3 linked regions of the Homo sapiens genome follow. The protein of the gene in region 1 purifies or fractionates together with the protein of each later gene. This does not show direct contact. Each region holds a gene or a part of one and is shown in the gene's direction. Other genes may lie near its edges.

What was found.
Region 2: the proteins of ZNF174 (region 1) and BTF3L4 purify together in Homo sapiens (affinity purification with mass spectrometry; one large-scale study listed by BioGRID and IntAct). This does not show direct contact.
Region 3: the proteins of ZNF174 (region 1) and ZMYM2 purify together in Homo sapiens (affinity purification with mass spectrometry; one large-scale study listed by BioGRID and IntAct). This does not show direct contact.

The regions. Positions count from the first base shown.
Region 1 is NC_000016.10:3,404,215-3,407,276, forward strand, and holds part of ZNF174 (zinc finger protein 174), read left to right. Parts: intron 1-211; coding exon 212-434; coding exon of another isoform or gene 435-559; exon of another isoform or gene 560-694; coding exon of another isoform or gene 695-774; exon of another isoform or gene 775-1,827; intron 1,828-3,062. UniProt on the Homo sapiens protein: Transcriptional repressor.
Region 2 is NC_000001.11:52,062,634-52,066,370, forward strand, and holds part of BTF3L4 (transcription factor BTF3 homolog 4), read left to right. Parts: intron 1-2,191; coding exon 2,192-2,305; intron 2,306-3,737.
Region 3 is NC_000013.11:19,965,227-19,968,726, forward strand, and holds part of ZMYM2 (zinc finger MYM-type protein 2), read left to right. Parts: coding exon of another isoform or gene 1-55; intron 56-3,062; exon of another isoform or gene 3,063-3,176; intron 3,177-3,500. UniProt on the Homo sapiens protein: Involved in the negative regulation of transcription.

The DNA.
Region 1 (3,062 bases):
AAGCCACTCGGCTGATTTGTAGCATCCTCATTCCTGTCATTCTTCACGTTCTCCCCTTTACTTCCTTTGAGGGTTTCAGTGGTTTCTATGAAAGTTGACCTCTAGATGGTTATCAGCAATTCCCAAGGTAAACGGGTCATTATACAACAGTGAGAGATCAAGCTTCCCTCAGTCCTGATGGATGGAATTAATGGATGGGGCTTGTTCCTAGGTGGCCGTTTGTATGCAGGGGCAAAAGGTGCTCTTGGAGAAAACTGGATCTCAGCTTGGAGAACAGGAACTGCCAGACTTTCAACCGCAGACTCCTAGGAGAGATCTCAGGGAGAGCTCTCCAGCAGAGCCTTCCCAGGCAGGAGCTTATGACCGGCTGAGCCCCCATCATTGGGAGAAATCCCCACTCCTCCAAGAACCAACCCCCAAATTGGCTGGGACAGGTAAACACTCTGCCTTTTCTCTCCCTCTCATCAGCCCTTTATCTCCATCAATGTATCTCATGGTTCTGCAAAGGCATAGACCACATGTGTGTGTTTTTTTAAATGTTATATATAATAGTAGATGATTATTCACTAAACAAATTTCACTAATTAGGATGGTGGTGATACTACAAGTAAGTATGTTTTTATCGTTTTCTGTTAATGAAAATTTAAGAATCCAGTGCATGACAGGGTTGTACCTACTTTTCTGTCCGTTTCAGAACTTCTTATAGAAAAGACAGATCCAAATATGGCCACAGATGAACTTCCATGCAAGCTATGGCTGAGTTTCATTGCTTAAAATGCTCCTCTGTTTAGAGGGGCCTGGTAGAAATAAAAACCCACCCTATATCTTATATCTTTGTCCTCCTCTGTGATGTTGCTTGTACTTTAGATCCTCAAATCTATTTCCCTTTCTCTGGTGTGATACTTGTGTAACTGCTGGCCTTGTTCTACACAGTCCTGTGATCTCTAAGCCTGAATGACAGTGACATTTTGGCCAAGCCTGGTGATGTGAATACAAGATACAGTGAGCACGTTAGGGAGGAGGGTTACAAGACGACAAAAATCCTCAGTTTCTTAATATTTGCTACATCCAATGAGGTACTTCGTGTTTTAGTCTGTTCAGGCTGCTAATATAAAATGCTAGAGACTAGGTAGTTTATAAACAACAGGAGTTTATTTCTCACAGTTCTAGAGGCTAGGAAGTCTGAGTTCAAGGTGCCAGCATGGTTGGGTTCCAGTGAGGCCCCTCTTCCAGGTCACAGACTGCCTACTTCTCAGTCCTCATGTGGCAGAAGGGGAAGACAGGCTCCCGTGGGGCTCTTTCATGAAGGCACTAATCCCATTCCAGTGAGGGCAGCACCCTCATGACCTAATCACCTCCCAAAGGCCCCATGTCCTAACACTATTACCTTGGGAGTTAGAATTTCATATGAATTTGGAGGAACATAAACATTTAGCCCCTGGCAACCACAGTCTACTTTTTGTCTCTAGAATTGCTTATTCTGAACATTTTATACAAATGGAATCACACAGGCCGGGCACAGTGGCTCACGCCTGTAATCCCAGCACTTTGGGAGGCCAAGGCAGGCGGATCACTTAGGCTCAGGAGTTCGAGACCAGCCTGGGCAACATGGCGAAATCCTGTCTCTACAAAAAATGCAAAAATTAGCGGGGCATGGTGCTGCACACCTGTAATCCCAGCTGCTTGGGGGAGCTGAGGCAGGAGGATCACTTCAACCTGGGAGGTCGAGGCTGCAGTGAACTGAGATCGTGCCACTGCACTCTAGCCTATGTGACAAAGTAAGACCCTGTCTCAAAAATAAATAAATAAATAAATTGAATCACACAATATGTGGTCTTTTGTGTGTGGCTTCTTTCACTGAGCATGTTTTCAAGTTTTATCCATGCTGTAGCATCAATCAGTGCTTCATTCCTTTTCTGTGGCTGAATAATAGGCATTGTACGGATATATTACATGTTGGTTTTCTGTTCATGTTGGTTCATCTGTTCATAGATTTTTGGGTTGTTTCTACTTTTTGGTTATTATGAAGAATGCTGCTATAAATGTGTGTTTTTGTGTAGACATGTTTTCATTTCTCTTGAGTATATACCTAGGAGTGGAATTACCATATGCTAGGTCATGTGGTAATTCCATGTTTAACTTATGAGGAACTACCAGACTGTTTTCCAAAGCAGCTACACCATTTTACATCCCCACCAATACTGTGTGAGGATTCCGATTTCTCCACATTCTTGCTAGCACTTGTTATTGTCTTATACCCATCCTATTCGGTGAGAAATTTTGATTTGAGGTTTTGATTTACATTTCCCTAGTGACTAATGGTGTTGAACATCTTTTCATGTGCTTATTATCCAGTTACATATCTTGTGTGGAAAAATATCTGTTCAGATCCTTTGGTCATTTTTAAATTAGGTTATTTGTCTTTATTTTTTATAAGAGTCCTTTATGTATTCTAGATACTAGACCCTTATGTGTAATTTGCAAATCTTTTCTCTCATTTTGTGGGTTGTCTCACTTTCTTGACAGTGTCCTTTGACGCACACGTTTTTCATTTTGCTGCAGTCTAATTTATCTATTTTTTTCTTTCTTTATGCTTTGGTGTCATATGTAAAATAGCACTGCCTAATCCAAGGGCACAAATATGTACAGCTATGGTTTCTTCAAGGAGACATAGATTTAGCTCTTACTTTCAGCTATTTGGTCCATTTTAAGTTTATTTTTTCCCCATACATAAACAAGTCAATTTTTATATAGGTTTTGAGGTAGGGGTCTGTCAATCTGATCAGGGGTCTGTCTTAATCTGATCAGGCTCTTACAACAAATTGCCTTAGACTAGGTAATTTATAAACAACAGAAATTTGTTGCTCATAGTTCCTGGATACTGGGAAGTTCAAGATCAAGGTGCCAGCAGATTTGGTGTCTGGCGAGGGCCCATTCCTCATAAATGGTGCCTGCTATGAGTCCCCACATGGTAGTCTCTTGGGTTTCTTTTATAAGGACACTAATCCCATTTATGAGGACCCCACCCTCATAACCTAATCACCTCCCAGATGCCCCACCTC
Region 2 (3,737 bases), on another chromosome or scaffold:
ACTATTAAAGGATTTTAAGAAGGAAATGACTGCCATTTTAGAAAGGTAGCTGCTGGCGTTGTGGAAAATGGAACAAAATGGAAGTTTGGCCTATAGGCGAACAATTGAGACGCTATTGCTAGAGTCTAAGGCAGCAGTCCGCAATCTTTTTGGCACCAGGGACTGGTTTCGTGGAAGACAGTTTTTCCACGGATGGGAGGATGATGGTTTTGGGATAAAACTGTTCCACCTTAGATCATCAGGCATTAGTTAGATTCTCATGAGGAGTGCGCATCCTAGTTTCCTCGCATACGCAGCTCACAACGGTTCGCCCTCCTATGAGAATCTAATGCTGCCGCTGATCTGACTGGCTGTGGAGCCCAAGCAGTAATGCTCGCTCATGCCCCCTACCCCACCTTCTGCTGTGCTGCCGTGTTCCTAACAGGTCACAGACTGGTACTGGTCAGTGGCCTGGGGGTTGGGGACCTCTATTATATGGGATACAAATTTAGGAGTTGGAATTGACACGATTTAGTGACTGATGGGATATGGGGGGTAAAGGGCATGCAGAAGAATCTAGGATAACCCTCAGATTCATGATTTTAGAGACTTGAGTATATGGTGGTACCACCAGCTACAAAAGTTAGGAAATAAGAATAGATTGGTGGACTGATAAGCTTTAAGACATATTGAATTTGAGGTGCCTGAGGATCATTCGAGTTGAACAAGCACCAAGCAGTTGAGCTATCCCTGAGTCAGGAATGCTTCACAAATGAGTGCCTATGTAAATAGTCAGTCCTTCAGCAACTAGATTTCAAGGCATCCTCTGCTGTCAGATCTCTCCTCCACTCCCACCGGAATTGCTGAGACTGAAGCCCCTACCTTACCTCTATAAGGCTGATTCCCTGAGTACTACTATAGGAGCTACCCAGAGATTGAAACCACTATTCCTTTCTCCTTACTCCTACCAGTTTTAGAAAGATTTAACCCTCAAGACTTAATAAACTGATCCAGGAATCCATTATTTTAAATAGTATTTCAATGGAAAAATGTATTTAGAGTTTCACAGTATCAATTTAGAAATGAACTTTTTCTTTCTCAGTAACTAGTATAATTTTCAACCTGTTTGCTCAGGCCAAGATTCTAAGCATCATCCAAATGTCCTCTTTTTCTCATATCCCACGTGTAATCCATCAGCAAAGTCATGTGGTCTCTTGTGAGAATCTGACCCCTCACCATCTTCACTGCCATATCCCTCATCTCTGGCCAGGACGGCTACAGGAGCCTCCTGACTGGTCTCTTTATAATCCATTTTCTACATAGCAACTTCAGTCATAAGTAATCAGATCAAGTCACTCCCATGCTTAAAACCTTTCAATGGCTTCCCATTGCAATCAATAAAATCTAGCTCCTGCCCATGGCATTCTAGGCTACATAATCTGGTCCTTGCCTATCTTTCTGATTTCATATTCCTCTTCCGTTCCCATTATTCACTCTGCTCTAGCCATACTGGCCCATTTTCTCTCTTCTAGAAAGGACAAGTTCAACCTTGTTTCATTCTGCTTTGATCATTCTTGCCCTAGTTATGGGTCTCAACTCATATGTTACCTCTTCAGAGGGGGCTTTCCTGGACCTTCTAATAAAGTATTGCTTTGCCCCTACTTAGTCATTCTTGCTGTGCTCTAGTTTTGCTTTTTTCTTAATAGTACTTAATCCCATTTGAAATTATCTGATTTGTTTATATATTTATTGATTTTTTTCCTCCTACTGTAATGTAGACATTAATTTTCAGTTATGTCCTAATTCCCCAAATTTCAGAATATCTTTAGACTACTGGCAGGGGGTGGTAGTTACTATAAGAAAAGATAATGTTTTAAAATTGTTATAAAGTATTTAAATTGTCTTGAAGTTATAAATTATGTTTTATTAGCAAACAGTATCTTGTGTTGAAATGACAAAGGCTGGATATTAGATAAGAATAATTCAACCTGAAAAAGCTGATAAGGAAAAAAAAGGAACTGGCTAGAACCAACCTTTAGAAATCTGCGTTAGGCTGACAATCACAACCTCTGAGAAGTCTTATAACATTAATCATTATTATTTTGTCCATTTTTTAATGTGGGTTTTAGATTATTGTGATACGTAAGATGTGATTGCAGTTGCCAGATGCCAGGCATGCTAACACTTCTGCTTCTGTTTGGTTATTTTTCAGGGTACAGCTCGCAGAAAGAAGAAGGTGGTACATAGAACAGCCACAGCTGATGACAAAAAGCTTCAGAGTTCTCTAAAAAAACTGGCTGTGAATAATATAGCTGGTATTGAAGAGGTATGATCACTTTGCAAGTTGTTAAATTGTGTGGGTACATGCACAAATAATTGTCTGGACCTTTCAGATGTAAAATATCAGCTTAGAAAAATCTTTGATATTGTCACTCTGATGTCTTTGAAGGACTGTGGCACTTTGATTTTTGTATGAAATTAAATGATGGTCAAAAAAATAATTTTAGTAGACAGTTAAGGATTTTCATCATACTTTTCAAGCTCAAGATATTTGCGTATATGGCAAAATTATGTAAGTGTTCTTGAATATTAATATAAAATATGTCTCTAATAATGTAGAAATAAACCCCAACATTTCCTCAGATGAGATAGACCTTTTTTTTTTTTTTTTGAGATGGAGTCTCACTCTGTCACCCTAGCTGGAATGCAATGGCACGATCTTGGCTCACTGCAACCTCTGCCTCCCGGGTTCAGACGGTTCTCCTGCCTCAGCCTCCCAAGTAGCTGGGACTACAGGTGCGTGCCACCATGCCCGGCTGATTTTTGTGTTTTTAGTAGAGACGGGGTTTCACCATGCTGGCCAGGCTGGTCCCAAACTCCTGACCTCAGATGATCCGCCTGCCTCGGCCTCCCAAAGTGCTGGGATTACAGGTGTGAACCACCGCGCCCGGCCAGACTTTTTTTTATTATTTAAGATTTTGGACTCATGGCTCAATAGAGGTAGACTTTTTTACCCTAATGCACCTGTATATTTTACAGAGCCTCATTAGTTACTACCTCAGCCAAAAGGCTTTAGCAGTAGCTTTACATGGGTTAGATTTCTTATTAAAACTGTTTCAAAAATTGTTTAAAATGTATTAGTCAGCCGGGTGCAGTGGCTCACGCCTGTAATCTCAGCACTTTGAGAGGCCTAGGCAGGCAGATCATCTGAGGTCAGGAGTTCAAGAGCAGCCTGGCCAACATGGTGAAACCCTGTCTCTACTAAAAATACAAAAATTAGCTAGCTGTGGTGGCACATGCCTGTAATCCCAGCTACTCGGGAGGCTAAGGCAAAAGAATCACTTGAACCCAGGAGGCGGAGGTTACGGTGAGCCAAGATTGTGCCATTGCACTCCAGCCTGGGTGACAGAGTGAGCATCCGTCTCAAAAAAAAAAATTGTATGTCAGTTTATTGTATTTTGATGACACTATTTTTCTCAAATATGAGACCAAAGATTAATGTTATTCCAGAAGATACTTAATAAATAACAACAACTACTTGTGATGTTACCACCTAGATGCACCTCTGCCTGATGATTCCATTTGTTTTTTTGTTTTTTAAGACAGAATCTCACTCTGTCACCCAGGCTAGAGTGCAGTGGTGTGATCTCTGCTCACTGCAACATCTGCCTTCTGGGCTCAAGAAATTTCTGCCTCAGTCTCCAGAGTAGCTGGGATTACAGGCGCCCACCACCACACCCGGATAATTTTTTTTTTTT
Region 3 (3,500 bases), on another chromosome or scaffold:
TGTGTATATTACTCTCTGCCGTAGTCACCTGGATACCATCTCTGGACTTACTAGTGTAAGAATTGACAACTAAATTTTTGGGTTTTGTTACTTAACATTAAAAAATGACTTCTCTTCTAATACTGGAACAGTTTTATAATCATTCATTTCAAAGAGGTATGTCTTTTTCCTAGGAAGAATAGTGTTTCTTGGAATATCAAGTTGGACTAGACAGAGTGTTCAGGGTAATAATCAGGGGACTGATTTAACAAATTGGATATTACAACACCTGTTATATATTAGATAGTCATAAAATATGTGTTCTGTTAATTATGGGCTAGCAGTTTCTTTGGCTCTGCTTGGAAGAGCATTTCATCTAGACTTAGTGAATTGTGTTTCTAGTTCTATAGAACTAAGGAAAGGTTTGGGTGGAAGTGAAAATATAAGTTAAATGAAAATTTTATTTTATCCTCCTGTTTAGATTTGTACTTTTTTTCGTTCCAGGCTTGTCATATCTTATTTTAATCATTTTAATTATTTCTGGCCCTGATATGGTATCTGAATTCTTTTTTTTTTTTTTTTTTTTGAGACGGAGTCTTGCTGTGTTGCCTAGACCAGAGTGCAATGGCATGATCTCAGCTCACTGCAACCTCCGCCTCCTGGGTTCAACTTGAAGCAATTCTCCTGCCTCAGCCTCCTGTGTAGCTGGGATTACAAGTGTGCACCACCACACCTGGCTAATTTTTGTATTTTTAATAGAGACAGGGTTTCACCGTGTTGGCCAGCTGGTTTTGAACTCCTGAACTCAGGTGATCCACCTGCCTGGGCCTCCCAAAGTGCTGGGATTACAGGTGTGAGCCACCGCACCAGGCCTGAATTCTTATATATTTATAATTCTATATTTGCTTGTTTTTTTTTTTGTTTTTGTTTTGTTTTGTTTTGTTTTGAGACAGAGTTTCTCTCTTGTTGCCCAGGCTGGAGTGCAATGGTGCAATCTCGGCTCAACGCAACCTCCGCCTCCCGGGTTCAAGTGATTCTCCTGCCTCAGCCTCCTGAGTAGCTTGGATTGCAGGCATGAGCCGCCACGCCTGGCTAATTTTGTATTTTTAGTAGAGATGGGGTTTCTACATGTTGGTGAGGCTGGTCTTGAACTCCCGACCTCAGGTTATCTACCTGCCTAAGCCTCCCAAAGTGCTGGGATTACAGATGTGAACCACTGCACCAGGCCTGAATTCTTATATGTCTATAATTCTTTTTTTTTTTTTGGATACAGAGTTTTGCTCTTGTTGCCTAGGTTGGAGTGCAATGGTGTGATCAGGGCTCACCGCAGCCCCTACCTCCTGGTTTCAAGCGTTTCTCCTGCGTAGCTGGGATTACAGGCATGTGCCACCACGCCGGGCTGATTTTGTATTTTTAGTATAGACGGGGTTTCTCCATGTTGGTCAGCCTGGTCTTGAACTCCTGACCTCAGGTGATCTGCCTGCCTTGGCCTCCCAAAGTGCTGGGATTATGGTCGTGAGCCACCGCGCCCAGCCTGCTTGTTTTTTTACCTAAAGAAAAATTTGCACTTGTTTTAATTAGTTATAGGAAAATCATGATTATAAAATTTAACAAGTTTTAGCTTTATAACTTTACTATGAATATTGTCTCACTTTATTTTGATTTTTGTCTGTCTTATTATTGTATAGTCCTGTTTCTTAGCCAAATAAGTGTTAACTCCTGCCTAGGAAGTCATTCCATCCTATGTCTCTGTACGGTTTTACATTGCTTATGGAAGAGAAGCTTCTGTTCCAGTTAGTCTCTCTTCCATGACACAGACTCCTGACTTCTGTTATTTCATGTTTTCTTTATTTGTATATCACATTTTCCTTTTTCAAGGACCTTACTCTTCTGTTTTCATTCAGTCTTCCTCCTGGACTTACCTGTTCATTTGTCTTTCCTTTTCCTAACTCCTTTTGCTTTTTTTAAAAAAAGAGCACAGTATCTGTAATAGCATCCTATATAAAAGTCTGATTATACTGTCCTTTTAGGGGGTATGTTTCCAAATTACAGTAAACTCGTGAATTTGGTGAGATCATGATATGTGAGTATGGTTCTAGAGATATATGAGGGCCTCACATGGAAAGGGAACTAGTGAGTACTAAGAGAAGATTGGAAGGGTAACGACTTAATTTTGCAGATTTTCTGCCAAAAAAAGCCATTTTTCTCATTGTAGCATGACATGAGTTGGAGTCATACAGATTCAGGCTTAAATCTGCCCTGCTCATGAAGGGAGTTTTGGGGTGATAGAGTGTTATATAAAACTGGATTGTGGTGATTGTTGCAGAAGTATATACATTTAATACATTTATCAAATCTTTCACTTAAAATAAGTAAATTTTACTACACGTACATTATGCTTTAATATAACTATTAAAAACAATTTTGCTCCAGTATTTACCAGTTTGCGATATCAGGCAAGTCATGTAACATCTGAGCTGTAGTTCAGTCAGTTAACAAATGAGTATGGTAATGCCTGGTTTCCTGAGATTGTTGAGGTGAGGACTAAAAATAATACAGGGTATGCAGCTGGCCAATAGTAGGTGCTCAGTTAATAGCAGCTGCAATTCTTAAACTGTCTGTTTATATGGACCAAACATAATGAATTTGCTGCCACCACCTGGTATGGTAAACTTAGTGTGTGCTTATCTGGTAATGACTAGAAGAATTTCTATGTTTCTCTTCACCGACTTCCCTCTTCTGGCTTTTTCATTAGTCTGCAGTGCTTTATCCTCCATCGAGATAAAAATGCTTTATCCTCCAGAATCTCTGCATCTTTTTCTAACGATTTCTTCTTTTCCCTATACTTTTAGAAAGAAATCCACTGTCTGATCTGCACTGTCAACACTATAACAAATCTCTTCTGAGGTCGCTAGTGACCTAATTGCCAAATCTTTTAACTGCTTCTTTTTGTCTTAATTCTGTAACATTTAAAATTTTTGCTTCTGGGGCTTAATGTGGTCTCATAGTTATGACCACCTCCTTCACTTCCCCTCGCTAGACTTTCCTTTTTTTGAGCCAGAGTTTTGCTCTTCTTGCTCAAGCTGGAGCGCAATGGTGTGATCTCGGTCCACTGCAACCTCCGCCTCCCGGGTTCAAGCGATTCTCCTGCCTCAACCTCCCGAGTAGCTGGGACTACAGGTGCACTGGGATTACAGGTGCGCGCCACTGTCCCTGGCTAATTTTTTTGTATTTTTAGTAGAAATGGGGTTTAACCATGTTAGCTAGGCTGGTCTCGAACTCCTGACCTCAGGTGATCTGCCCACCTTGGCCTCCCAAAGTGCTGGGATTACAGGCGTGAGCCACCGCACCAGACCTCCCCTCACTAGACTAATGTTGAGACCTTTAAGTGTCCTTTACTGTCATCTTTAGCTCTTACTATGCTTTTAACTTTCACCTTAGTCTGTTAGAAAACGGAATTATTTACAAGGCAGTTTCTTCCTATTCTTGACTCCATTGTAGCCAGATTAATTTTTCCTAAA